4 linked regions of the Homo sapiens genome follow. The protein of the gene in region 2 interacts with the protein of the main gene of each other region in a pairwise test. Each region holds a gene or a part of one and is shown on either strand. Other genes may lie near its edges. The genes, in order: WWC1, FEZ2, SMC3 and SAP30L.

What was found.
Region 1: the proteins of FEZ2 (region 2) and WWC1 interact in a two-hybrid assay, tested with the Homo sapiens proteins (one study listed by BioGRID).
Region 3: the proteins of FEZ2 (region 2) and SMC3 interact in a two-hybrid assay, tested with the Homo sapiens proteins (one study listed by BioGRID).
Region 4: the proteins of FEZ2 (region 2) and SAP30L interact in a two-hybrid assay, tested with the Homo sapiens proteins (one study listed by BioGRID).

The regions. Positions count from the first base shown.
Region 1 is NC_000005.10:168,294,530-168,302,311, forward strand, and holds part of WWC1 (protein KIBRA), read left to right. Parts: exon of another isoform or gene 1-1,755; intron 1,756-7,782. UniProt on the Homo sapiens protein: Regulator of the Hippo signaling pathway, also known as the Salvador-Warts-Hippo (SWH) pathway.
Region 2 is NC_000002.12:36,573,611-36,581,392, forward strand, and holds part of FEZ2 (fasciculation and elongation protein zeta-2), read right to left. Parts: coding exon 7,680-7,782; intron 5,256-7,679; coding exon 4,987-5,255; intron 1-4,986. UniProt on the Homo sapiens protein: Involved in axonal outgrowth and fasciculation.
Region 3 is NC_000010.11:110,598,688-110,606,469, reverse strand, and holds the end of SMC3 (structural maintenance of chromosomes protein 3), read right to left. Parts: intron 6,817-7,782; coding exon 6,658-6,816; intron 6,032-6,657; coding exon 5,924-6,031; intron 5,449-5,923; coding exon 5,340-5,448; intron 4,834-5,339; coding exon 4,586-4,833; intron 4,505-4,585; coding exon 4,292-4,504; intron 3,997-4,291; coding exon 3,805-3,996; intron 3,646-3,804; coding exon 3,468-3,645; intron 3,287-3,467; coding exon 3,180-3,286; intron 2,240-3,179; coding exon 2,168-2,239; 3' UTR 422-2,167; downstream 1-421. UniProt on the Homo sapiens protein: Central component of cohesin, a complex required for chromosome cohesion during the cell cycle. The cohesin complex may form a large proteinaceous ring within which sister chromatids can be trapped.
Region 4 is NC_000005.10:154,455,667-154,462,005, reverse strand, and holds the end of SAP30L (histone deacetylase complex subunit SAP30L), read right to left. Parts: intron 6,107-6,339; coding exon 5,978-6,106; 3' UTR 953-5,977; downstream 1-952.

The sequences.
Region 1 (7,782 bases), on a different chromosome or scaffold from region 2:
TGGAGAGGCGGCAGAAACATAGTGGCACTTAGGTGAGCAGCTCACCTTCTTCATCTTGTGTCATTGGTTTTTTTGTTTGCTTTTGGTTTTTTTGTTTATTTGTTTTTGTTTTTTGGAGACAGAGTCTCGCTCTGTCGCCCAGGCTGGAGTCCAGTGGTGCGATCTTGGCTCACTGCAAGTCTGCCTCCTGGGTTCAAGCGATTCTCCTGCCTCAACCTCCCGAGTAGCTGGGACTACAGGTGCACGCCACCACATCCAGCCAATTTTTTGTATTTTAGTAGAGATGGGGTTTCACTGTGTTGCCCAGGCTAGTCTTGAACTCCTGAGCTCAGGCAATCCGCCCACCTCAGCCTCCCAAAGTGCTAGGATTACAGGCGTGAGCCACCACGCTTGGCCTTGGGTCACTGGTTTATAAACTTCATCTCTGTACCTCCTTGTCATCCCACCTGGACTGGGGTGGTATTGGGCCCCTGAACTTGGGGTCCTGAGGGGGTCTCATGTCAACTCTGGGGGTCACTATTGTGGTCCAGCTTTGTATGTTTTGGAAAAGTGCTAATTGGAGGATAGCCACTTGTGGTTTTCTGGAATTTCCCTCCGGCATACCCCATTTTTGCCTTTTAGTTCTGTCTGTGTGGCCTTGGGCAAATCACTTGACCTCTCTGAGGTTTGAGTGCTTGAGAAGTGGGTTGGTTAGATGGTCTTCAAGGGCCTGCCAGCTCTTAAATATTATTTCAAACCCTTCTGCCGCTCTTACCTCTCCAGACTCCATGAGAGGAGAAGGGGGAACAGGGATGGGCTATGAGAAAAAGGAAGAAGAAATTTAACAAAGCTGAAAAGAGCCAAACTTATTCCGGGGGGTGGTGGGTTGGGGAGAAAAAATTCTGCCAAGGTAGTTATATCCCTGCAATTAATTAATGCTGTGAGACAAAAAATTGCACTAAAAATTTCTACTCCGTGTGTGTGTGTGTGTGTGTGTGTGTGTGTGTGTGTTTATTTGCCTTGGATTTTTCCTTACCTGAATCATGGAGATGCCCACCCATTCCCCTGAATTTAAAAGAAGTAAGTCAAATGGTCCTTCAGTCAGAAAAGTGATTTCTTAGCCACCAAGGACAAAATAGCGTCTCTGGTTACCAACCCTAAAGAATGTCTTGGCACATTCCTCCCTCTGGGGCTGAGCTGTTTTGTGTGCTGGCCGGCCAGGAGCTGCTGGGGGTAGGGAATCCAGTTTTCAGCTTCCCCTTTCACCAGGGGGTTGGAAGAGCAGCCAAGCAGCCAGCCTTGCCAACTCTCTCCCCTTCTCACCCAGGGGAAGACTGGGAGGCCGAAATTCCTGAGGATGGTTGTCCCAACAACCGGAGAGGGTCCAGTGGGCAGCTTGGGTCCTGCCCACTGGGCCAAAGGCTCCAGCAGCACCACAGGCTTTTCCTGAGTCAAGGCCAGCCTGGGAAGGTGACAGGCCCTTCGGGAATCAGGTGCTGTGGATCAGGTCTGAACAGCACCTTGGAGCCGTGCTCCTTTTGCGGAGTAACTCTGGGTGCTTTTGTGAGCTCTAGCGAAGGGGCCAGCGTCCTGTGTATTTCACTTCGTGGTATGCAAAACAAATGCACCGATTGTTCTCGGAGGAAGAATAGATCTTTGGGGCTGGCCCTCCCAGAGAAGGTTCCTGCAGCCTGATTCCTTCTTGTTGTGCGATTTGTATTCAGACCTTCTCATAGGAACCACCTGGGAATTCTGGGCAGTTTCTGGGTCTGTATGGTAAGTACCGGAGGCACACATGGCTGGAGAGGCCATGCTGAGAGGATCCAGCAACTTCTCCCATGACTTGAGGATCTTTTGCTAACCCTGTTATTTCAGAAATAATTGATATGGTAGGAAGTCAGGTCTACAGCAGTCAAAAAGTCTAAACCTCTGTCAGGTCACAGACCCTTATGAGACTGATAAAGGTTCAGAACTCTTCCTAGAGAAAAGGTTTTTGCACATAATTTCAGGGACCTCCTGGACCCCAGGTTCATAACCCCTGCCATAGATAAGCTTGGAAATTGCTTGTCACCATGGAAAGGCCTCCTGTTTAGCTAGGTAGCAAATAATGATTGGGTATTTACTATATTCAGGCAGTCTGCTGAGAGCTTTACATAGGTTATCTCTTTAAATCCTCCTAACAACCCTGGGACTAGGTACAATTATTACCCACCTGAACTACCCAATGCTCAGGGAGGCTTGGTAAAGCCCCTCAACCTTTGTGGAGCTGTGATGTGAATACTAGGCGGGCTCACACCAGAACACACATTTCTAACCACTGCCTCATTTTACTTCCTGCTGAGTTAGCTGCAGAATCAAGACCACTGCTCCAGTGCCTAAGGAATTTGGCCTTGGGAAATGGAGCCAAAACAGGCATGATTTCACTTACCTGTGACCATTCTGGTGTGGTCAGGTCATGGGCACCTAGAGGGCAAATGTAGATAAGTGAGTCTTTGGCTCCTGGAATCTTGGATCTGCCACTTGCTACCTGAGTTACCTTGGTAATTGACATATTGTCCCTGAACCTTGCGTTTGCCTTCTAATGAATGGAAAGATGTCCATCAACCATCAAGGGTAGTTATGGGTGATAAGTAAGTGAAGGTAGGTAGGGCAGCAAGCCTGAAGTCTGACATGCAGGGGACACTGAGGAATGCCAGTTCCTTTAACTTTTCCTAGAACGTACCTGTGAAACAGCAGCATCAAATGGATGCTGCATATCTACCCAATTTTGCAGCTGGAGTGGACCTTTCTGTTCGTGAAATCCAGGCCTCTCATTTCACTGATGAAATTGAGAACCAGCCTGGTGCGGTGGCTCATGCCTATAATCCCAGCACTTTGGGAGGCTGAGGCGGGCAGATCACCTGAGGTCAGGAGTTCGAGACCAGCCTGACCAATATGGAGAAACCCCATCTCTACTAAAAGTACAAAATTAGCCAGGCATGGCGGTGCATGCCTGTAATCCCGGCTACTCGGGAGGCTGAGGCAGGAGAATCGCTTGAATCCGGGAGGTGGAGGTTGTGGTGAGCCAAGATCGCGCCATTGCACTCCATCCTGGGCAACAAGAGCGAAACTCCATCTCAAAAAAAAAAAAAAAAAAAAAGAAATTGAGAACCAGAGACAAGTGACTTGCCCAAGGTCACACAGAAAATAAATGCCAACCTCGAGTCTAGTAAAAGTTTCTTTTTTCTCTTTCTCTTATATAAATTTTTTACTAAAAGTCAGATCTATGTCCTTCTCATCAATGATAATAATTCACACATATTTTATGTGCATGGCTGCATTATTCTCCATAATCGTTTTTGATTGTATAGACCAGGAAGTTGCATTCATCGTGCGTCACAATCATTTGTGAGTTGTGTCATAGGAATTTGCTGTATGTCAAATGATTACATTTCCAGTGATTGCAAGTGAATTCCTATTTTTATAATCAATTAAAATGGATTTAGAGTTATTGTCAGTCTAATGTCATATTCCAACAAGCTTTGTTTTATTTTATTTTATTTTATTTTGAGACTGAGTCTTGCTCAGTCACCCAGGTTGGAGTGCGGTGGTGCAATCTCAGCTCATTGCAACCTCTACTTCCCGGGTTCAAGCAATTCTCGTGCCTCAGCCTCCCGAGTAGCTGGGATTACAGGTGCATGCCACCTCACCCAGCTAATTTTTGTATTTTTAGTAGAGACAGGGATTCACCATGTTGGCCAGGCTGGTCTCGAACTCCTGACCTCAAGTTATCCGCCTGCCTCAGCCTCCCAAAGTGTTAGGATTACAGGTGTGAGCCACTGTGCCCCACCCAACAAGGTTTCTTAAGTGAGAGTTATAACCAGTCTGCCAGGGAAGTTACCCAGAACCTCTTTATTCTCCATGCTGCTGCTCTTAATGATCCACTAATACCTGTAGATGTATAATAATAATACTTACATACAAGTGATTAGAGGGCTTTTTATCTTTTTCTGAGGCTTGAGTTTAAGATCTACGTATTCCATGGGAGTCTACCATGCCTGGGAACATCCTATGTCAATTATTAAGAAAGAAATGAGGTTTAAAAACACTAGGATAGATAATAGGGAGAAGCAAGAGATTTGGTAACCCAGAGAAGAATAAAATAATAGTCAATACCAGCATCTATTGAGTGTTTACTCTCTGCTGCCCACTGAGCTAAGCATTCTATTTTGTGACCTCATTTTATCTTTTCAACAGCCATATGGGGTAAGTACTTCAGATGAGGGAACTGAAATTTAGAAAGGTTAAGTAACCGGCCGGGCGCAGTGGCTCACTCCTGTAATTTCAGCACTTTGGGAGGTCGAGGTGGGTGGATCACCTGAGGTCAGGAGTTCAAGACCAGCCTGGCCAACATGGTGAAACCACGTCTCTACTAAAAATGCAAAATATTAGCCAGGTGTGGTGGCACGCACCTGTAATCCCAGCTACTCAGGAGGCTGAGACAGGAGAATCGCTTGAACCCAGGAGGCGGAGGTTGCAGTGAGCTGAGATCGCGCCTCTGCACTCTAGCCTGGGCAACAAGGGCGAAACGCCATCTCAAAAAAAAAGGTTTAGTAACTTGCTCAAGATCACCAACAGGTGTTGCATCCAGGACTGGAGCCCACCTAGCTGGATTCTTGCATCTACACTCATACTAGCTGTAGCCTGGTCTGGCTCTGTCCTGGCTTATTAATCCATCTCAGGGCCCCAGAGTGCCCTGTTGACAGCTGGGCTTGAGAGTTACCATTTATTCTTAAAATGGGTGAACCTGATGTGGATCTCAGGGAGAGACTTTGCTAAGGAGCCTTAACCAGAGAAGCCAGTGAGATCCTCATGGCAGCTTAGGAGACTGTTTGGCATAAACTCCACCTTCTGGGAGCAGCTGGCTAACCAGAGCTTTGGGGATGGGAGAAGAGAGAGAGATGGAGGCAGAGGGACTCTTTGAAGGATGCAGTGTGTACAAGGAGTTCACAGTCCTTTCCAAGTCGCTTGGGTAAATGCTCCCAACAGCCAGGGAATGAGTAGCCAAGGCCGTTCCTCTCTGTCGCCATCCCTCCCCCTCCCGGGGAGAGGGCTTATCCAAACTGACCCAATTTTCCAATTCCCTGGGGTCCCAGATTGCTGTGAGAAGAACACTGCCCTTTTGAAGGGAAGAGAATCAGGTTGCCTTAGTTACCTGGAAGGTTGGCACGCCAAGTTCAGGTGCACGTAAGGAGAAACAGGGCTAGAATAAGTGTGAGTCGAAGGTGGCCACCGTCTTGCTGCACGGTTCCCTCAGTGGCAGAAGCCTTGATCAGGCTTCAGTGGCACTTGCAGGGAATGCCGACCTAATGTCAGGTGGCTGTCCATGACGTGTATCAGGAGCTCTCTCCAGCCACATGTGGTGCTAGGTGATGAGGCTCTGCAGCCTCCAGTTCAGCAAGGGGCCCTGGATAAGAGGAATCCACTTCACTTGGAGAAGTGGCCTGGTGACATCCCTATCACCAGCTCCTCGCTATTTGCTAAGGGAAGCACCTCCACTTGGACAGGGCTGAGGGCTAGATCTGGGCAAAAAACTCCCGTCTTGCCTCTCCCAGCATGGAGATGGCCAGCTGGCTGCACACCTTTAGGTAGAACAGCAAAGGTTCAGTTGCTGCTGCCTCGAATCCGTTTCAGAGTGAGATAAAGAAAGAGAAAACTAAGAAACTGGATACAGTGACATTTTGTTATTAGACCTTCCCCAGCAGGCCATTTAGCCTTTAGTTCCTGAGCAGAAAAATAATAATGGGGTGGCGGGAGGAGGGGGCAGGCGTTCACTGTTGTGTGCGGAGAATATTCTCTAAAGATGCAGGATGGGGAAGAGGGGGTGGAGCAGAGAGTGGGGAGGAGGGAAAGAAAAAGGACAAGTGTGGTGGGTCACATGCCCATTCTCCCCACCCCCCACCCCTTGCCAGTTGCCTGCTCAATGCTTCTACCCATGACATCTCACTGTTGGGAAGAAATGAGATCTTTCAGTTTCAAATGTCTGCCAAAGAAAAGGGACGGAGGCTTAAGTTCTCACTCAATGGTCAGCCAGAAAAAAAAAAAAAAATGAAGCTGCATCAAGATTAGGGACACCTTTGTTGGCTTTTTTTTTCTTCTCTTGCTCCATTCATCACTCTCTGGCAGCGAGGACACCAGGCCAACTGCAGCTGCTGACTTTCCCCAGTCGGCTGCCTGCTGTTGCCCAGGCCTGTTTTGGTAGCAACCCCCACACTGGCTTCCTCCCCGCCCAGTGGTGGTTACTTGTTGGATTCGTCCCTGGGGTAGCCCCTGGGATCCACTGACGGGTAACAGACTTGGAAGGATAAAATGTCAAGATGCAGGCATCAGGTGGCTGCTAGGATGAGATGACCCTGGGACAGCCTTCCAGTCCTACATCTGTCGTGGCTTTTCTTGGAGAGTCGGGCTGTGAGCATTTCACTGTATTCCAGGAATTTCTTCTAAGTGCATTGTTTGTCTTTGTATCACTAACAGTGAGAACAATAACTGGCACCTGGTGATAATGGTGATAAATAATCATGATTGTCTTTAAAGATCCTTATCCATTGTCTGTCACGTGCCAAACACTATTGCTCATCATATTTTTATGGCATTTTGCAAATGAGGAAACTGAGGCCGAGAGACAAGTCAAGTGACAAGCTCATTTTTCCACTATGGAAAAAAATGTGTATGTGTTTGTTGTTCCACCCAAACATGGGATTGCATACCACACGATTCACGATTCCCTGTAGTAGATAAGCTCTCCATAAAGATCATTAGAGGACACTGAGTCAAGTCTGGCTTTGTCACTTTAAAATAGTAAGTGGGACTGGGTGCAGTGGCTGACACCTGTAATTCCAGCACTTTGGGAGGCCAAGGTGGGTGGATCACCTGAGGTCAGAAGTTCAAGACCACCCTGGTCAACATGGTGAAACACCATCTCTACTAAATATACAAAAAAATTAGCCAGGCGTGGTAGCAGGCGCCTGTAATCCCAGCTACTCGGGAGGCTGAGGCAGGAGAGTCGCTTGAACCTGGGAGACGGAGGTTGCAGTGAGTCGAGATTGTGCTATTGCACTCCAGCCTGGGCAACAAGAGCAAAACTTCGTCTCAAAAAAAAAAAAAAAAAGTAAGTGACCTTGAACCAGTTCCTTCTCAGCTATAAAACAAGGATAAGAATAGAACCTACCTACCCCTGAGAGTCATGGTGAGGATATGACATCCAACATAGAAAGTCTTAGCGCCTATCATGCCTTCATATGGGAGCCCTTTCCAGTTAGGCCAACCTACCCTCCTGTGCATTGGTAACGGTAGAGGAACTAAAACCCCTGTTTCTTCCTTGCCAACTCAGGTCTCTTCCTGGCGGGCCATGGCTCACCTGAGCCACACTGACATTAGAGCTCGCAAACCACCTTGGCAGCACTCATTATATGAATCAGTAAACTCCCCTCCTCCCCCAGTCTTATCAGGGGCAAGCCCTTCTTTGGAATTTCTGGAGTGAAGCGACTCTTGCCAGTGAGCTGGCACCAGGGCTGTGTGTGAATCAGGGTAATGAATTGCAGTTGTCATGGCAGAGCTAAAAAGGCTGATGCAGGAACTGGAGGTCTCTGGAACTCATTTGTAACTGCTTTGATATCATGTCCCCTCACTCAGTCTTCCCTTTTGCGCTGTTTGAGAGCTGTTTGAGGACCTGCTGATTTGAGCATGGTGGTGTTGCAGGAAGGGCATTGGCATTTATCACGTCCCACCCAGCGGGGGGTTGGCCATTCACTCAGCAGGTATTTA
Region 2 (7,782 bases):
AAGCAGTGTGAATGAGCCTTTAAAGAGCTTGCACTCTGTTAGAAGAGAGGTTTAAGCCAATGATTACAACACAGTGTGGTACTTCAATATCACAAGTATGTGTACCCTCACAAATAAATATGAAAACACCTCATAACAGGCATATAAACATAATAGGCAACTCATAAAAGAATACAAATGGTCAACAGATCAAACCCATTGTTTGCCTGTGCAGTGTATATTCAAAAGCTCTTAATATCTCCTGTTGGCGGGAGGTGTGGGAAAATGGTCACTCTTACGCTCTACTGGGCTACACTTCTACACAATAATTTGAAAAGCTGGTCATTTAAAGCCATTTAAAACTCTATATTCTTTGACTTGGAAATTCTATCAGTTTCAGTGAGTGGATAAACTAGTTTTGCTAACCAAAAGAAAATAATTCAATTTTAGGAAAATGGTAACTTTGGTTTAATAGTATAAATTTCAGACTCCTACAAGATATCCAAAGGGAATTGTCTAGTAGGCAGTTGGACATATATAACAATTAGCATTTACTCATGGTGTTTGCTATGTTTGCTAATCTTATATACATTATTTCATTTAATCTCTCCAAAATTCAAAGCCGTCTGTATGTAGGACGAAGATTCAAACACAGCTCTTAACCCAAAGCTCTTAGTCAATATTCTATTGTCTTAGACAATATTCACTGTCCATGGGTTTGACACCTGGCAGAAAGATCCAATATAGAAATATATATTTGCAAGTTTATCTTTCGTTCACTCATTCATTCAGCAGAAATTTATTAGGTACCTAAGGTTGGATCTACGAATACCGAGAAAGTAAAGTTAAATTTCTTATCATTAGGGACATAAAACAGAGATAGGCATGAAAACAAAAAATTGCAGTATGATACAACAGTGATAATAGAAATACTAAAGAGGAGTAACACTAACCCCTCTAAAAAGAGAGAGTAGTCAACTCTGCATCGGACAGAGTCATCAAGGAAGGTTCTAAGAAAGGAAGACAATGCTTGGCCATGATTTTAAAGGATGAGTGAGAAAAAAAAAAAATCCCCCAAGTGGACAGAAGCAGCAGGTAAGGAATTTGATTCCAGAAGAAGAGCATTGAATATAAAGAAGTGTCACCCAAAACAGCATGGTCAGCACAAAGAAATACATGTAGGTCACCATAGTGATAAACAGACAGTGCCCTTTAACCACTCTCTAACCCCCCATCCTCTGCTCCTCCAGATGCTGCAAAAAAGGACAGAGGAAATATAAAGCCTGCCACTCTCTTGAGTTGCACTTCCCAAAGAGGTCCACTCCTTTAACCTCCTCTTCAAACGGAGAATTGGAAAGGGACTAGGCAGGCTCCCTTGTCAATGAGGAGAAGCAGTGGTGTAGTGACACTCTCCAAAACAGCTTCCCAACAGCATCACCATCTACCACCTCACCCAGCCTTTGGTTTTCTTCATGGCCTTTATTTACTACTAAAATTCCATCATCTATTCATTTTTTCCTTGTTTATTGCCTTTCTCCGTCATTAGACTATAAGCTCCAGGAAGGCATGGGATGGGCCTCATCTATTCTATTCTATTCACCACTGTGGTTTTTCTGTTTTTTGTTTGAGACAAGGTCGGGCTGTAAGTGGAGTGGTGTGACCATGGCCCACTGCAGCCTCAACCTCCTGGGCTCAAGCAATCCTCTCGCCTCAGACTCCCAAGTAGTTGGGACTACAGGTGCATGCCACCACACCTGGCTAATTTTATAATTTTTATTTTGTAAAGACAAGGTCTCACTATATTGCCCAGTCTGGCCTCAAACTCCTGGGCTCAAGGAATCCTCCCACCTCAGCCTCTCAAAGTCCTAGAATTACCATCATGAGTCATCCTGCCCACTGTATCTTGAAGAACACCTGCCACAGGAAAGCACTCCACAAATCCTTGCTGAATGAATGAATATTGTTTCATCTTACCCAACATACAGCATTATGGTTATTTTAAACCTAAAACTCCAATCAAAATCATATTTCACTTTTATAAGATAATACTTTCTGTAACATTTCACATATTTTCATGGTCTAATGAAATTTTCCAATGCTCTAAATAGCATCCCTATGCCCTCTATTTTTTTTTTCACCACAACAAATATTTAAAACAAAATCTGTCTCCAAGTTTAACTCTGCTCTATACCCACTCCAATATTTCATTAGAGTATCTTTGGACCAAAGAGAACAAGGTAACAATTTTAGATTAAGTGGTATGCCAACTACAAATTGATGTACTGCTTCAGTGAAACATACATGAAGAAAAATGGAAGCTATTCTATACTTAACGAAAAACTTCAAGTCCTGCTAATAAAACAAAAATATCTCAGGCAGGAGAAAAAAAAAAGTGACTTATGTTATTGGAAAAACAGGTAACATATGACAATTCTAAGGAGGTCACCATTTTTTAGGAATTAGTATCACTGATAATAGCAAACTCATAGAGACCAGGTCTTGCCAAGACTGCATGTGATATAAAATGCTTGGTAAAATGTTTGGCAAGCTCCTGGAATCTGTTTATCCAACTGCCTATTTCACTTTGGGTTTCTTTTGAGCAACCTACCACTATTTTCAGAATCACCCTTCCAGCCTACTTGTGTCACAGATAGGAAGGTCTTTCCCTGGCATTTTAGGCTTTTTATTTTTTTTTTTTGAGACAGAGCCTCGTTCTGTTGCCCGGGCTGGAGTACAGTGGAGCAATCTTGGCTCGCTGCAACCTCCGCCTCCTGGGTTCAAGCGATTCTCATGCCTCAGCCTCCCGAGTAGCTGGGATTACAGGCATGCGCCACCACGCCCAACTAATTTTTGTATTTTTTAGTAGAAACGGAGTTTCACCATGTTGGCCAGGCTGGTCTTGAACTCCTGACGTCAGGTGATCCGCCCACCTTGGCCTCCCAAAGTGCTGGGATTACAGGCGTGAGCCACCGCGCCCGGCCGCATTTTAGGCTTTAAAAGGATACAGGAAACTAGTACTGCAAGCTTAGCCGTGCCATTACTGAACTGATTAAAATTTTTGACACAAATTGTAAATCAGGCAAAATGCAACTTCAAAAGTTCAAATATTATGAAAAATATTTACTGTTACTATGAATCTATTTCAAGACCAATGAAGGCTGAAGTAAGACCTAACTGTTGCCTTGCCAAATCCATTTCTCAATATAAATGCCATGTAAAATTACACAATAGATTTACTCTAACCCTTTTTACATGGGAGTTACAAAACGAAGCCTTTAAACCCCTCTAGGGATAAATTTACTTTTCTCAGCCAAGTGTTAACAGCAATAAATGGAGGATTTACATGTAATCCCTAAAAGCAAATAGGCAGAAATTACCAACCATGCTATGACTTTTTAACTAAGCATTTTATTTAATCTCACTTGCATAACAGGGCAATTTAAAGGGTGCCAGTTCTAAAAATATGAGATGCAAATGCAAAATAGTGTCCCTAATATTTTAAAGCAAATTTTCTAGGATTGTATATTCAAACAAATGTGGGTTGGTTTTGGGTTTTTTTCAGAGTACTCACTAGGAATAACTAAATAAACACCTATTCAATCAATACTGCCATTTCTTAAAAATAATAGATACCTGAGAACTTTTTTCAAAGTCAGTGCATAAGCAATGTCCTTTTTTTTTTTTTGAGATGGAGTTTCGCTTTTGTTGCCCAGGCTGGAGGGCAATGGCACGATCTTGGCTCACCGCAATCTCCGCCTCCTGGGTTCAAGCAATTCTCCTGCCTCAGCCTCCAGAGTAGCTGGAATTACAGGCATGCAGCACCACACCCGGCTAATTTTATATTTTTAGTAGAGACGGGGTTTCTCCATGTTGAGGCTGGTCTCGAACTCCTGACCTCAGGTGATCAGCCCACCTCGGCCTCCCAAAGTGCTGGGATTACAGGCGCGAGCCACCGTGCCCAGCCACGATGTCCTTTCAAAATAGATACAAATGAACATTACACTGAAAAAAATGGATTTATTCATAGGCTAATTACAGCATAATAAATGAGCTATATGGTAAGACTCTTTTTGTGTTAACTGCTCATTGGTGGCCCACCATCCTAGAACTGTATTTCCAGGATTCCATCAGCATCTGCTTAATGAGATCTATTTCTCTGCTAAGTATTCTTTAGATAAGTAAATCAGACTTTATCAAAAACAGAACTCATATTATTGCAAGCCATAATAGCTAGTTTGTGATTTGTAAGACCATGTTATTGATATCACAAATTAAAAAGAGATGTCCCATTTAGAAAAAGAGATCCCTTTACCCAACCATCATACTCTAAAAATAAAACCAACATTTCTTCACACACAAACAAAATCAAGGTGGGAATACACAAGACTTCAACACAAAAAAATCTTATCAAAGGGTCAGCGTTTCAGATGTTCTAAACTTGTTTTCACCAGTCAGAAATAGTCTAGTCTGCCAAATACTAGGCCACATGGCTGATGTCACTTACCTTCTTGTATTCCAACCTCACTGAAAAATCAGGAGGAACCTGTTTACAAACAATTTGTGCCTTGAGCAGAGTTCTGATACCTCTAAATAAACCCCTTCTAATTTCTTATCACACAACTCGTAAGAGTTCAGCAAAAATAAGAAAAAAACTACTAGCCAAATATACATAACCACTCTTCACATTTTGATGTGGTAAAAATGTTCACTTGCTAAAGCTTCTTTTCTTCAAGACATTCTCCTTTTTTGCCCCCTCTTCCTTCCACTTACATCCTTGCTAAACATTTCAGTATTATTCAGATAACCAGTACACCCTAGTCAAGAAAACGACTTTCTGAAGAAGCTGAGCACAGCGGTATTCTGGAATAAAATCCCACTGGGCTCTGATTAGAAGTGTTAACACTCCTGCCCATGTACAACCTGTCGCACCTGCCACCAGCCCCAAAGGCTGGGACTACCACAGAACCTGTTTCCAGTGTTCGACGCCTCCTGCAAAACATCACTTACTGTGCCGGGCATATGACTTCTCTCATTCTTCCCATTCTGAGAGCTGCCATTTTTTAGTTTCTTTTTCTTTTTTGCTGTTTCTTTGTGCTCTTTCTGTTTGTTTTGCACTTCAATAAGAACAGAAATAAAGCTGTTTTTCACTTCCTTTTCAAACTCCAGTTCATCTCGTAAAGCCAACTGCTGCACCAGCTCCTCAGAGTACTCCTTAATGGCAGTCTCAATTTCTTCCAGGATTTCATTTAACTCAGACACTGAGAGCCTTTTCACTCCTGTGACCAAAAGCAAAATACAGCAGATATTAAGACAAAAACATTTCAAGGAAGCAAAACAGAGTAGTCACTAGGAATGACTAAATAAACACCTATGTAATCAATGCCAAAGAGCAAAAATCATATTCCAAGCAATTAAATTGACTGTGGGTGATCTTCTCAGAATTCTACAACTTCTGGAGATCAGATCTGAGTAGAGGTAAGTGGGCAGGTGAGTCACTTCTCAGCTTGCTGGCAAGAAAGTCTAACAAAAGTTTTTACTTGTGCAAATAAATCATTGCATGAATAATACTTCAGTCAAGACTGTGAAGGCTTGTACACGGAAAAGAACAAACACAAAAGTCGAGGGAAAGTACAGAATCCACCTGCTGACAAAAAACTGCAAGCCGTTCAGCAGGGTTCTGGGATATCTCTGAACAGGAAAGGAGTTGATCTGAAAGAATTAAACTAAATATACACTTAATTACATAAGTCCTGATCTGTGAATTTTGTTGAAATTGGTGATATGGTTTGTATCTGTGTCCCCACCCAAATCTCATACAGAAATGTGATGCTGGAGGTGGGGCTTGGTGGGAGGTCACTGGATCATGAGGGCAATTTCTAACAGTTTAGTACCATCCCCCTGGTGCTGTTCTCATGACAGAGTTCTTATGAGACCTGGTTGTTTAAAAGTGTGTGGCACTCCCCCCAGCCCCCTTCCTCCTGCTCCAGCCATGTGAAGATACCTGCTCCAGCTCTGCCTCCCACCATGAGTAAAAGCTCCCTGAGGCCCCCCCAGAAGCAGATGCTACCAGGCTTCCTGTATAGCCTGTGGAACCATTAGCCAATTAAACCTCTTTTCGTATAAATTACCCAGTTTCAGGCATTTTATAGCAGTGCAAGAATGGACTAAAAAAACTGGGAAGACAAAAGGGAACAATATTCCCTGAAACCCCATTTCAGTCTTTTCTCAGCACTTCTGCCCCTTGTGACAGATAGGACACTGTTAAAGTCCCAACCCACAGGGCCTCAGAATGTGGAGAGGGGGTCTTTAAAGAGGTAAATTAAGGTTAAATGAGGGCATCAGGATAGGCCCTAACCCAACATGACTGGTATTCTTATAAAATAGGGTGATCAGGACACAGTAGGAAGACCACGTGAAGACATAGGGAAAAGGCAGCCATCTGCATGTCAAGGAGAGAGGCCTCTGAAAAAAACCAAACCTGCCAACACCTTCATCTCAGACTTCTGGCCTCCAGAACTATAGAATATAAATTCCTGTTGTTTAAGCCACCCACTCTGTGGTACTTTGTTCTGGCAGCCCTAGCAAACCAATACAGATTTTAGTATCTGTATCAGGTATCAGGACTGTATTTGGGAGTCAGGACGTTAACACTGTTTAGCCCATACCTACAGGAACATGGCCAAATCAGACCATCTGAAAGAATTTGGTCTGTCTGACCATCTGTATGTTGAAGCCATACAACCCAAAGGTCTTTAGGTAACTAAGCTTTGGACTGGGCATGCCATAAAGATAAAACTAGGTGACAACACGAGTTGAGCAGATACAGACCCCATCAGTGCCTATTCAAGGAAGGGACCAGTCATATGGCAATGATTAGATACACACCTTCCAACCAGCCTCAGGCTGTTCACAGGCTGGTTATATTTATTCAGACATTTTTCATGAAAATCAACTGTAGAGTTTCTAGAGTTCATTATTCTCACATATGTCAAACAGATCCATGGTTCCCAAAATTCTTCATAGTAACACACAAGACTATTTGTACAAACAGGAATTGCATTTGACAAATAATTACTGAATATCTATTCTACACTTCAAATATGATGGGGTTTCTTATAGACTCAATTGTGTCCTCCCCAAAATTCATGTGTTGAAGTCCTAACCCCAAGTACCTCAGAATGTTACAGTATATGGTCTTTAAAGAGGTAATTACATTAAAATAAGGTCATTAGGATAGACCCTAATCCAATATGATTGCTGTCCTTGTAAGAGGAAATTTGGGGCCAGGCAATGGTGGCTCACGCCTGTAACTGCAGCACTTTGGGAGGCTAAGGCGGGCGGATCATGAGGTCAGGAGTTCGAGACCAGCCTGGCCAACATGACGAAACCCCGTCTCTACTAAAAATGTAAAAATTAGCCAGGCGTGGTGGCGGGCACCTGTAATCCTAGCTACTTGGGAGGCTGAGGCAGAATTGCTTGAACCCGGGAGGCACAGGTTGCAGTGAGCTGAAATCATGCCACTTCATTCCAGCTTGGGCCAAAAAGTGAAATCCCGTCTCAACAACAACAACAAAAATGTAAATTTGGACACAAACACAAACAGAAGGAGGATGAAATCAAAGCTTTCTGGAGATGATCATACTATACATTTGATACAGACAAAAAGCACAGAAATCATTGATTTCAGCAGGCTCCCTTACTCTCTTCATAACTGCCGGTACTAGACCTCTTGAGAGTTTGAATTTCCTGGGAAAGCATTGAAAGCCGATCTGACTGTGTAGGGGTTTCATCATCTTCTGGGTC
Region 3 (7,782 bases), on a different chromosome or scaffold from region 2:
ATGCCCCAAAATATTAATATTGGCAGGCCAAAGCAGAAGATCACCTGAGCCCAGGAGTTCAAGGTTGCAGTGAGCTGTGATCCTGCCACCGCACTCCAGCGTGGGTGATGGGATGAGACCCCCCCCACCATCTCTTAAAATATATGTTCTTCAATTCCACTATGGTGAATGTAATGTATTTGTAACAGTATTAACAAAATCTCAAAGTGGAAGAATCAGTACTACTCTGAGGAAAGGACTATCCAGCCAAAGAGAAGCATAGATTTTCTTATGAATCACTGGCTAACTCCTTGGGTAAATGTCTGTCCTTCCTCTAAGTTTCTGGGTTAAGCATGCTCAGGATTGTCACATTTTTCTATTCAGTCTCATTAGAATTAATTCATGACTAAGATATCGCAAAGAATATAGGCTTTTACAAAAATTTTGTTTCATTATTTAGATGCTTTATTGTTATAAATTTACTGGCATTTCATTATACTAATATCCTTGGGGAAATGCTTAAGAACAATATTAAGAAGTTCTAGAATGATGTTATGTTTGTAACATCCCTTGAATTGAATCCTGGAACTTACCTTACACCAAATTCTGTATTATAAGGGGTTGGTCATATCAGAGCAACTCTACAAATCGTAAACTATACACCAAGCATTCATGATGAATATTCTTAGGTAGTTGTTTGAGAAAAATTCTTGGGTAAATGTGTAAGAAAAATGGTAGAAATATTAGAAAGATATTATAGTTACGTAACCCTTTGAATGTAGTCATAGATAGAACATATACCAAATTCTCTATTATAGATCAGTTATGTTATAGCAAAGCTACAAAGTATAAATAATACACCGAACATTTAAAGATTCAGCCAGTCAAAATGAAAACCCAAAGTAAACTCACATTTTTAAATTCAATTTAAAGTCCCATTACTATTTCTTTATTTTAAAAGTATCTCTTTAGGTATTTCTGGTTTCCAATGATGGAAGAGTAGCTCCTAACAAATTCTCCTGCAGATAACCAGTATAAACTCAGGCCAGGGGAAATCAAGAAAAAGAAATTAAAGGTAAATATTTGAAAAGGAAGAAATAAAACTGCCTCTTTCTTGCAAATGACATGACTGTCTATGTAGAAAATCTCAAAGAATCTACAAAAAGCTACGAGGACTATTGAGGTAGTTTTCCAGGGTCACAGGAGACCCCCAGTGCTTAAAGACCTACTTTCAAAGAAAAGAGTAGTATGGAAAGGGAAAAAAATGTAACTTCACAACAAAGAAACCTGGCAAGTACAATGTTGGGTAGGTGATCAAGGTAAACATCAGTGATAAAACATGTTAATAATATGTACTATTATATGAGGTAATGAGAATACTTCGCTTCTGTGGTATTAGCTCCAATCTAACCATGAGAAAAATATTAGACAAACCTAATTTGAGGGACATTCTACAAAATATGTGAATATTATTCAAAATTGTCAAGATATGATAAACAATGACAGAGAAATTGTCACAGACTAGAGGAGATGTAAGTAAATGTAATGTATCCTCTGTGGGATCCTAGAAAAGAAAAAGGGCCTTAGTGGAAAAACTAGTCAAATCTGAATAAAATCTTGAGCTTAGTTGATAGTAATGTATCAATGATAAATATACCATGGTAGGGGCTGATTTTGTGCTTCCCTTCCCAAACTCACATGTTGAAGTCCTAACCCTCAATACCTCAAATTTAACTGTATTTGGAGACAGGTCTTTTAAAGAGGTGATTAAGTTAAAATGAGGCCTTACATCCAATCTGATTAGTGTTCTCACTGGAAGAGACTATGACAAATGAAAAGCCACATAAAACACTATATTAGTCATAAAACCGATTATTTAATTGAAGCTATAAAAAAGGTAGTATAAGTGATAAAATAATTAGGAAAGAATATTTAGCATGTTTCAAAACATTTAAAATAGGAGCAGAACATTTTACAAAAAGTTGTACAGGAAATTAAATTCTTAAACTATCAGTACAAACATGACATTACAGAGTATCTTATAAAATACAAAGACAAATATAAAAGGACTATGATGCTTTAAGTCTGAAAACTATTGGCCAAATATTTAGGTTTAAATTTACAGTTCCTGGGTATGAGAATCATATTACTATATACATCTCCCAAACCAGTAGGTAGTATTTTCCAATTAACCATGTGTGGTATCATCTTCTACAAAGTCTTTGGCCATCTCTGCTGTGATCACATCAATATGACTAACCTGAAGAATAAATGTTAAAAACAAAAATCTGTTAATTACATCAGTGTTTACATTGTATAGGGTAAATATATACAGCCTATCAACTACATTTAACTACATTTTTTAATTTTTAGTTTTTTTTTTTTTTTTTTTTTTTGAGATGGAGTCTTGCTCTGTTGCCCAGGCTGGAGTGCAGTGGCACCATCTTGGCTCACTGCTACCTCCGCCTCCCAGGTTCAAGCAATTATTCTGCCTCAGACTCCCAAGTAGCTGGGACGACAGGTGCACGCCAGCATGCCCAGCTAATTTTTGTATTTTTAGTAGAGACGGGGGTTTCACCATACTGGCCACGTTGGTCTCAAACTCCTGACCTGGTTATCTACCTGCCTTGGCCTCCCAAAGTGCTGGGATTACAGGCATGAGCCATTGCGCCCGGCCTATCACCTATATTTTACATATGAAGGAAAATAATTCTGAAGCACTGACTTATAAAACCTTTATTTACAGTGGTGTTTGTTCAATGCATAGATTTAAAAAATATGTATTTTAATGCTCTGAAGAAATAAATATCATGCCTAAACATCTAAACTACCTTTTTGTTCACTTTCTATTACTTTGCTATTTCATCAAGAATTTTAAGGTTGGGAAGACACCCAGGAAGAGCTATGCAGTCTATACAAATGAACATATATAATTGTTAAAGACTGTGCATTACAGAAGCATTGAATAGACTGGACAGAAAGATATTGTTTATTAATGCCAATGAAAATAAAACCAATGCAACGCCATAAAATACTGCTAAACTTCATAGTTATTTGAAGGAAAAGTTCTTTCTTTACAAAGACATCAGATAAGCAAAGACTTTCTAAGTTTTCTTTCACTATTTAAGTAACATAAAATCAGAATTCAACAAATATAATTGAATAAATACAAACTTAAACTCAATGTAAAATAAAATTACCTTATTTCTGAACTTTACACCATAGAATTTGTCAGCTGACTCAAGCAGTTCAGGCCTAAAAGTAGTTGTAATAAACTGAGCATGTACAGCAAGTTCCATAATCATATCTGTAAAAAGAAAATTGTGCTTTAACAAATTTCTTTTCAGCAGATCTGAAAATTTAAAAAGCAACTATCTTTACTCTTACTAAAATTCAAAACTGCCTGAGTTTGATTTTTTCATATATACATCAGCAAATATTACCAGCTTATTGTTAAATACAAAACCAAAACTGTACTGAAACTGTACCTGACACAGCCTTTCTGTGCTGAGCATCCAGAGCCTGGTCAATTTCATCAAACAAGTAAAATGGAGCCGGGTCACATTTCTGAATGGCAAAAATCAGAGCAAGGGCTACCAAGGATTTCTGTCCACCTGAAAGCTGTTGCATTTCTCTCATTTCACCTTGTTTTCCTGTAAATGACACCTAAAAATAAACATATTATGAGTTAATATCCTAAAGGGCAGAATCACCACCATCTTTCAAAAGTAACTTGCATATAATGCACCAATCAGATTTGCAAAAGATACTATAAATTCTATTATGGTAATGCTCTGAGGAAAATGGAATATAAAGGTATTTTACCCTAATTCCAACTCCAGTAAACTGGTCAACTGATGGGACACTGCTTTGTGAGCCAGAACCCCTCTCACTCTCACCACTCCCTTCTCCTTCATCTTGAGACTGACTGCCCTCCACATCTCCTTTCTTCATCACCAAAGTAGCTTTGCCACCAGGTACTAACTTCTGGAATACTTCACTGAAGTTCTTAGATACCTTAAAACAAAAGCAGATTGAAATATAAATTTTGCTTAGAATTATATATAACACTTAAGTAAAATATTTAAAAGCAACCAATTATTTTTTAATCTTAAGAACAAGGATAACAGACTAGATCCTTCTAAGGGCTGTGTAAAACATTCAAGTTACTGTAAACCTATATGCTAGGTTTGTTCACATGTATTAGATTCACCTGGTAATGAGGAAAACAGCTTTAAAATCTTTACAAACTGAAAAGAGCTGGAAGCTTTTGTCCTCTGTGTGTATGTTTTAACTACAAAGCGAAACATACCTGTTTGAAAGTTAACTGAATAGCTTCATATTTCCGAAGTTCAAGTACATTCATCAGTTCCATGATTGATTTGTAACCCCTATCTAACTCTTCTTGACGCTTTATTAACTTTTCTTTCTGCTCGGAGAAATTTACAAACTGATCCAAAGCCTTTTTGTTAACATGGCTGTACTTCTTTAATTCTGTGTTGCACTGCTCAAGTTTTCGAAACAACTATAAAGAGAAAATATGTATTCATATAAATAAATTTATATACTGAGCAATTTGTAACAAGACTTCAAATTTAAAACCAACCTGTTTGAGGCTCAGTGTCTGGTACTTTTCAAATGCTTCCTGGGGAAGTGATCCAAGTTCTCGAATTTTCTTCATACACTCTTCTTTCTTCTTCAATAGCATGCCTTGCCGATTTGTCATCTTTTCCAGTTCTTTAGTATCATGATTTATAGCATCCATATGTTCTTTTTCCATATTTTTCCAGCGCTCCATACTCTTCTGAAGCTCCTTAATTCCAGCTTCTGTTTTATCAATGGAATTGTCCAAATCTAAGATGGGGGGAAACAAAATTAGGCTATAATACCTATAAAGCCAGTGTTATATGTTGAGTATAGATTTTTATGATCAAACCTACCAAAATAGGTTTTAGGTTTTGTGTTTAAAATTTTCTGTGAAAATTTATGAACCATGTTAAGTCAGTACAAAATTAGAAGTATATATGAGTCACTCAAATATATAATTTTCATTATTCAATGTTAATGCTTATAAACTATAGTTATTTTCTAACAACTAAGTGATGAGAAACTTTCGTCAGGTATTTCATATTTTATCAACAAAATGAATCATTTATGGTCTCAAAATTGTCATAAACATTTCAGTAAAACAAAAGTTACTATTTATAGTCAACTTCCTAAATTCCATTTGCTATACATTGTTTATAATGGAAAACAAAAAATCATTAGCATATGCTTCTGCCTATTTGGACATTTCATTCTGTAGTAAACAATTTTATAAAACATGCATATAAACAAAATTTTACTACATAAAAATTCACCTTCTGATCGTGCCATAGTGTCTTTTACTCTTTTATTGATGGCTTCAAGTTCTGATGTTGTGGCTGTGAGAACAGTACCCCCTTCTGTCTCTCTCAGCTCATTAAGTTCCTGTAACAAAAAATACAAATTCCATTAGTTTCAAATGTTATGACTGCCAACATTTTCTATGGCTATTGTCTGAATAAACATTCAAGAAAACAAAAAAATATAAATACATCATATAATTACAAATACTTAGAAGTATCCATTAAAGGGAAGAAAAAAAAGACACAATTACTAGAAAATTTCTAAGCATCTAACCACCACTGAAAAAATATTAACAAAGTACTTAGAATGTGTCAGGATAGCAATTATATAAAACAAGTATGATAATGCTTAATTCACACAAGAAACTGAGGCTTAGAAATAGTGACTTGTCCAAAATCACACACTAGGTGGCAGAATTCCAACCCAAGGCCCACAAGACACTAAGCTTTCTGTCCCCAAAGCCCATGCTTTCAATCAGAGCCTCTGATATAACCACTTGCAATAGGTCATGGCCACCAAGGAGCCCTTAAAAAAAAAAAAAAAAACACATACACACCTGTTCTACTTGGTCCAAGCGTTTTCTCAGATTCTCATTGAGATAAGTCTCTACTCGAGTAATAATACCTTCTAATTTAATTCTTTCATTTAGCAACTGTCTGTTTTCCTAGAATTAAGAAAAAGTTGTCTATATAAGCATGTACATTTCACACACAGGAATGGTGCTCATTTGCTGTCCTCTCTAGTACTTGTGCTCATGTGAGCTGAAATGAAGTTTAATATGTTATATTCTTCAAAAAAGCCCTATACTTTCTTCATTTTTCTCTTATCAATTCATAATGTTAAATTTTTGTGGCTGGCCCTTTTTATAACGCATGCTGTCAAAAACAGTTTCTTTAAATGCTTTTCATTTTTTAGAATCGGTGTTGGTAGTTTACATCTATGCAGTTTTAAAAATCAATTAAAATGCTTGATCAAAACATTAAATATGTAAAGGCAGTAAGATAAATATGGTAAGGCTAACAAGCTCAAACTCATAGCAATACTTACAACTAATAAGTAATGCTAATTAACTAAATTTTAAGGAAATGAAAATTTCTTGTATAATCCTAACCTAGCTAGATTGGTTTAGAAAAACAAAATCTTATTTACTCCTATGTATATTAAAAGTCCAAGCCTCATTTTAATATTTTCTCAGTTCTTTTCTTTCATATTGCCCTAGTTAGCAAGAAAGGCCCTTTTCACAATAGCCAATTACTAACGAATTCTTTTTCCAGTCAGCTGTCTACTTACCTGCTGAAGTTGACGAATCTCATCATTCAGTGCATCTACTCTCTTCTGATCTTCCAAACTCAGTTGAGAAAGCAAATCAGTTCCCAGTTCTGCTTTCAATGACTCTCTGGTAGACTCCATAGCATGCAAGCTTGCCTCCAAACTCTGTAAGCTACGTTGCTATATGACATTATCCATTTATTAGTAAGGTATTAGCCACTGTATTACTTATAGTGAAAATTTTAAAACAATCTATATTTGATTGAGCTAAATATATAGACATATCAACTCAAATATTAGGTGCCTATTAATTTGGTAATTAGGACTCTAGCAACAAGAAAAATATGATGTAATAGTATAGGTGGGGCAGGGTGGGGCAGATCATATTCCATGATTAAACTATACAAAAATCTTCAGGCATATTATAAGAACAAAAAGTTGCCGGGCGCAGTGGCTCACGCCTGTAACCCCAGCACTTTGGGAGGCCAAGGTGGGTGGATCACGAGGTCAGGAGTTCGAGACGAGCCTGGCCAACATGGTGAAACCCGTCTATACTGAAAATACAAAAATTAGCTGGGTGTGGAGGCACACGCCTGCAATCCCAGCTACTCTGGAGGCCGAGGCAGGAGAATTGCTTGAACCCAGGAAGTGGAGGTTGCAGTAAGCCGAGATCACGCCATTGCACTCCAGCCTGGGCGATAGGGCGAGACTCCATCCCCCTCAAAAAATAAAAAGTTGTCAGAATATGGTTGGGATGGTACAACTGTAGGCACATCTTTTTTTTTTTTTTTAAGCTCTTTGTAGTTTTAGTATTATACTAAGTAAAAGATTTGTCAAAACTGTCAAGTTTATGAGACCAATAACACACTATCACTTATAAGTTTGCTTTCTAATTTTAATACAATCTGGACAAAACGGAATCAAATATTCAACTAATTCCATTGTGCTTCAGATAAAAATGGTTACTGACAAAAACTGACCATCAGACAGTACTCTTATGTCACAGCTTCAAATGCCTATTTGTTCAATGAAGGTGGAAAGTTTGAACGTGCCAACAATAGGAGACTTTGGGTATCCATGGGTTTAAGAATGGTAAAATAGATGTAGATATCCAAAAGTATGGGTCTAGCCTGGGCACAGTGGCTC
Region 4 (6,339 bases), on a different chromosome or scaffold from region 2:
TGTATTACTTCTATGTAACTAATATGATAAAGACAAATATTTATTGCACTTCTCCCTTTTCATTCTGCTGAGGACAAAGCTGTGGTAAAGTGGCACTAGAGACAGGCTTGAAGTGGGAGACCTGAACTTGAGGCTTGCCTTTCTCTTCTCTAGCACTGTGAGGACAGGCGAGAGGCGTCATCCGGTAGCCTCAGGGACCTCCACCAGGAACGTGCAGTCATACTGCCCTGGCTTCTCAAGCTGTAGTATCCCTAGGGAATTTGCTACTATGCAGATTCTGATTCAGTAGACGGCCAGCAGGAGGGGCTGGGAGATTCTGCATTTCCAACAAGTGCCCAGATGATGGACCAACTTTAAATAGCAAGACTCTACTGTAGGTGAAGAAACTCCAGGTCACACGCTGTTAAAAATGTCTTTGAGACATTTAAACATTGGGATGTTTACATGAAGATCTGAATTTCCAGCTTCTCCAGTCAAATTGCAAGACCCGGTCACACAGGGCTGGTGTGCCCATAAGGCTACAGTAGCGGGGAGCTGAGTAGTGGCTGCCCTTAGAAGGGACCTGAGTTTTCCAGTTTGCAGCTCACCCTCTGCAGATATTTCAATGTGCAATCAATCCTCCATACAGTTTATTTAGATGGAGAACTGAAGACCCAGAGAGAGAACTCTATTTGCCCAGTGCATCCAGTACACTACATGGAAGTTGAGCTCCAGACTCAGGCTGTTGGACCCAGTCAGTCTCTTTCCAGGTGAGTGAATGGGATAGCAGTACTGGAACTTGGGCCTAACCTTCTGGGATCTAAACTCAGTGTGCACTGGGGATGTAGGTGCTAGTATTTGGAGCTGGGAGGAAAGACCACTGTCATTAATCACTGTAATACACTGCCAGGGGCCAAATGTGGAAGTGAAAGCATCTGAATTCTATATAAAAATTCAAAGGGAAGACAGAGGGTCTCTTACTCATTCAGATTATTTATTAAGAGCAAAAGTCGGGCCATCCCATCGTGTGATATTGCAACATGAAAAGTCACATACATACTAAGGAGACCCCACAGAATTGAGAGCCTTTCAACAGTACAGAGCCATAGATTACGAAGTTAAAATACAAATGATCCCCCAGATTTGGCAGGAAACAAGTACAATATGAGGAGGCCTGGAATGGAAGGGCACTTACTTTTCAATAAGGCAGTTACAAAATGGGAAAAAAAACCCCCAAAACCTTGTACCCCAAAATATACTCTGATGAGCGTAGCAGACAATAGAAATGTAAAAGAAGGATCCTGTATAACCCTCTGTCATTGGCAAATGTGTGCATTAAGTGAAAGCAACTGAAGGGTTTGTGTTTTAAGATGCAAGCTAGATGAAACAACTGACTGTAGACATTTCTACCTCAAGAACAGTTCATATCTTGCCCTAGGCTGGGTTCTACCTCAAAACACCAGACCCACTTTACCATTTCTAACCATAAACTTGGAAACAGTCTATAATACAATGAAAGGAATAAAAAGGCACCCCTAGAGCACCATGCTTCCCAAGGCATGATCTTGAGCTCATCTGCCCTTCGGTTCGACTGCCCAGCTCAGTAACAGGGACCAGGAGCCAGGGCCAGCTGAATTACACAACCTCAAAGGATCGCCTGGAAGGCAGATATCTGACCAAGAGATCACAGACCAAGCACATTTCATGAGAATTTAAATGCTAGGACAATACTACCTCTCCCAATAGGGCTTTTGAACCCTGGTTTTAAATAACAGGCTAGATCTGTTTTCCCTTACCACTCATTTTGCAAAACTCAACTGGCCTAAACATTTCGCTCAATCTTGAGTTCTGCAGGTTGGTCCCTGAGAGCTAGGTTGGCCTTGGGAATTTCTGCTCAATTTTAAGTTCTCAAGAATCTGAGGGCAGCCGATTTAGACTGAATTAGAGTCATCCTATAGGTCAGAAAGAAAGAATGCTAGACAGGTCAAGAGGGCCAGAGGTTGGTTCTGATAATGCCATATGACCTCAGGCACATCTTTTTGAGTTTTAGTTTCCCCATCTCTAAAAACGGATGATTGGACAACAGCAAGCTTAACAGACTTTCCACCTTGAAAATACGGCACTTCTCTGACGCTTAGACCTTAAGTCCTGAAGCGTTGTTTTCTCAGCAAAAACAGTGCAAAGTCCTTACAGGAATCTAAGGTACAAGCCCTGGGCAACCATGAAAACTTTAAACTTCATGCAAAGCAACGAAGTTATAAATCCTCCAGCTGAACAATTTCCTGATGATGTGAGCATCCGTTTTTGTGGGGCAAGCACAGAACTGAGTCCTCATCTGTCTGAGGTTTAGCAGGCTGCTAACATCTTCTCATCCCCCTCTCCTCTCCCCAAGCTTTGGCAGAAACAAGCCAGCCAGTAGGGTTTTCTCAACATTCTCCAACAAGGAACTGAGTGGACTAATACTCAGGGGTAAGGACAGTGTACCAAAGTGTCCATGTCCTAGCATTGTTTCTTTCCAAAAGGCAAACGCTATGCTTTGGGACAGTGCCAGCAATTAGGTGCTTTGCCAAAAATAACTTGTCCCATGTGGCCCCCATGGGGCAGAGACTAAGATGGAAATTACAGAGAACATAGAAAAGCCAGAGGTTTACAAAGAACAGGCTTCTCCACGAGGTAGTGGGTTCTCTGTCCTCGGAGGTGTTTAAGTCCAGACTGCTCAACCCCTTGGTGGGATGGTTGTAGGCAGAATGTCAGCACCTATGTGGAGACTAGACTGGATGACTTAACAGCCCTTTCCCAACTTTGAGATCCTGTCATTGTAATGACTGAGAGCGCCTTTGGATGACTTCCATGAAGCAACTGCTCTGGGCAACAGCCTCCCTCAATAGGCAAGGCCCCCAGAGTAAGCTCCTTCTTCCATCCTCTCCCTCCCAACAGGCAGTTGCCCTGCAGGATATTAACAAAAAGCTTCCCACAAAATAAAAAGCCTAAACACCAAAATTAGATGCAACACTGCAGCTGCAAACAATTGTTACTATCTGTTCTCTGAAAGGCTAGCAGTGACTATTTAGCTATGACAGGAACATCTAAAAACTTGGCAGCTGTAACATGTAAGTAAAATTCCTCTTCATTTTACAACACCGGTCTTGAATCCTTTGGTTTTTAATCTTTCATGAGATTCAGCTGTGATCTTTTTTTTTATATGCTGTTGCCAACCTAAGAGTTTGTTCCTTGAAGCAAGAAGTTTGTCCATTGGTTTTTAAAACATCTTAAAACAACATGAATGGCAGGATACTGATGTTTCCATGTGAGAACCTTCAGGGCATATCAAAGAACCATACCAGGCTGGAACTGAGGCAGGAACCATACTCTTTAAGAAGACAACGCCAGTTCTGGATTTCAAATTCCAGTTTTGCCCAGAAGCACCAAGAGGAAAGAAGGCAATGCTGCTACGTCACAGGTGGAGAGAAGCGCAAGAGTCCTTGATGGATGGTATAAAAATGGAGCAGCCAAGATGAACATTGCTTTCCCCACACCCCACTGCTCCCTGAAGCCAGACCCCGTTGCTCTGGAGGGCCTGGCCACTTCTCACAGGCAGGAGTCCCTTGCCCACAGATAGAGCCACCAGAAACTGCAGAAGAGGCTAAGGCGAGTGGTTTAGTGGTTTGATGAAAGAACAGATTTCTGGACATAAGAAAAACATAGGTTCAAATAGCTTTGTCTTTTCTCTCACCTGACCTGTTGAAAGGTCAGATTGAAAAGGTTGAAAAGATGCCCACAACCTCCACTTTCCACAAGCACCTCTCCTTAGAGGAAAGACAAGGGACCCAAGTACACACACAGCATCTGGCTGAAGGTAAAACATTTCCCCAGGTTTCGCTTTGGAATAAAGATTCTTTCAGACACAATTGAACAGATGGATCCTACCATCATATATTCTTGTGCAGAAGCTATTGTCTCTCTCAACTGGGAAAACAGATTTGCTGCTAAAGAAATAGTGATGTGACCTACACGCCCACAATTCTGGTTTACGTATCAGAAAAATACACTTTTTTACTCATTAAGATATGGACATTTCCATGGAGCAAGTTAACAATGCCTTAACCTGCAGGCCCCATCTGCCCCTCAGCCTTCTTGATGCCTGTATCAACATCCTTCAGCTGTAAGCAGGGAGAGAATCTCTAAACACATAGTGAATGTGAATGACTGAAAACACTCACAGAGCACTGGACATGCCATCCACAGCCAGGAGGCATACCAAAATAGGATGCCCTCACAGTCCAGAGTATATTCTATATACAACCATTTATATATATTTAATTTAAAAGGCTGCAATCTGCTAGACATGCATTTTGAACACAGGCGAAAGCTTTGCTGCAATGGAACATACTGCATTTTAGTGAGCGTGGTGACCCTGTCCCCATTCCACAGAAAGCGTGGTACTCTGCTCCACAGAACTGAGACCTTTGGACACTCCGCCGCCCTGCTCAGTAGGGGGTTTAGTCCTGACTTCTCTGTGATGGTGCTCAGATTAAGTCATCTGTGAAACTCTCTGCCAGGCCAGGCTGTCCATTGTTCTTATTATTTAAGGCTTAAGAAATTAACTCAGAATTGAAACTGAGTAGGAAAATGACACCTTTGACCATATGTCAAGATGGTCATAAATTAGAATCCAAATTCTTTTCTTTTCTTTCTCCCACCCTCCTACCCCATACCCTCTGCCCTCCATTACACAGATTAAAGAATTTTGCAAAAGCACATTTTTGGATATAAAGCTTTGTTTTCACAGGATACTTTGGCTCTGATATAATTAGATTGAGGAGTTCAACGTTTTGAACAACAAAAAAATTAGGTAATTTTCAAAAATTATTTTAGCAATCTTTCTCCCTAAGAGGGAGGCAAATTGTTCACAAAAATGAGCATCAGATGGAATTGACCTTTGTTGCCCAAACTCATGATTTGCTGATGACCAGAGCCCAGGGAGTCAAGGCCAGCCAGACTTTCAATCCTAAGCTGAACTTCTGGGCAGGAATCACATGGCCCCTGGCAGCTTGCATGGTGGTTGTGAACTTAGGATGAAAACTTCTAAAAATACTTGCCCCAACCTACTAAATATGTCAGTGTGTCAATGCATTTATTACCAAGAAGCTTGGCTGAAGTCATAATATCTAACTGCACCCCAAAGAGTGAAGCATAGTGGGGTGCATAAGGGACCGTATCTTCTGTGAGGGTCTCTATATCAGTGTTTCTGGAACCTCAACGAATAGTTTTGCACATGCAACTGTCCTGAAATCCTTATCTGATCAGAAACTTCCTTGTTGGTGCATCAGGATTTCCTCCACATTCTAGCAGTTAAGTGGTGAGCAACAGAAATGGCAGAGGTCTCAGTCATGAGAGGTGTGAAGCGGATGTTACAAGGCTGGCACTATTAGTGACAGCTCAATTAGCCAATACCTACTGATTGAGTGCCTACTGTGTACAAGGCACAGGGTGAGTGAGGGGGACCAGTGTCAAACTGATCTGCTGATAAATGACAAAGCTTGCAACAAAGCGGGCGGGATATCTATGTCGCCAGCGGGCAGCATGCAAGTCCAGATGTGGGTCTGCTCATGCACTTCCATGGCCAATTGCACCTTGCTGCTATTCCAAGCTACAGCTCACACGTGGCAGCCTGGTGGATAAGGTGATTACCAAAATATTTCTTATCCCACATTTCCAGTAGAATTGATTTAATGCTTTGTTGAATGCTGAAATACATAGTTTTTAATTCTTTTAATGATCCTGATTTTTTTAGTCCAGAGTTATCGTAAAAGAAAGTCTTTCTATACACATGCTGAATCATGAGAATATAATCCTCCTGACCAAAAAGATTTACAGTATTCATCATTCAAACTTTTTTATTTACAATAATATTTAACAGTCTTTATGGGCTTAAATGTAGTAGATATCACCTGTGCATCAAGCATTACACTTCATTCCTTTAAGATGTGCTTCATCCTCACTCAAGCTGCTTGCCACCCTCCGATTTCTGGTCCAGTCTACTCTTGTTACTCTTCACCATGTAGATGAAGTAGGCAAGGGTCTCTTTTTCATTCACAGGTATGTTCCTGAAGTGTCGACTCACAGTCTATGTGGGGGGAAAATACCAAAGTTCCTTAAACCATGCACAAATCACACCGCAAATTCTACATTGTACAAAGAAGCGAATGGAGTTGTTTGCATGCTGTGGCGGGAATGACAAATGCTGAAGAACTTCCTGCCATGTGCGGAACTCAGAGTGCCCTTTGCCCTTCCTCCCCAGGGATGTAGGTGGTTTAATTTCCAGGATCCAAAAGTGGCTTTTTAACCTACAACTCTTCC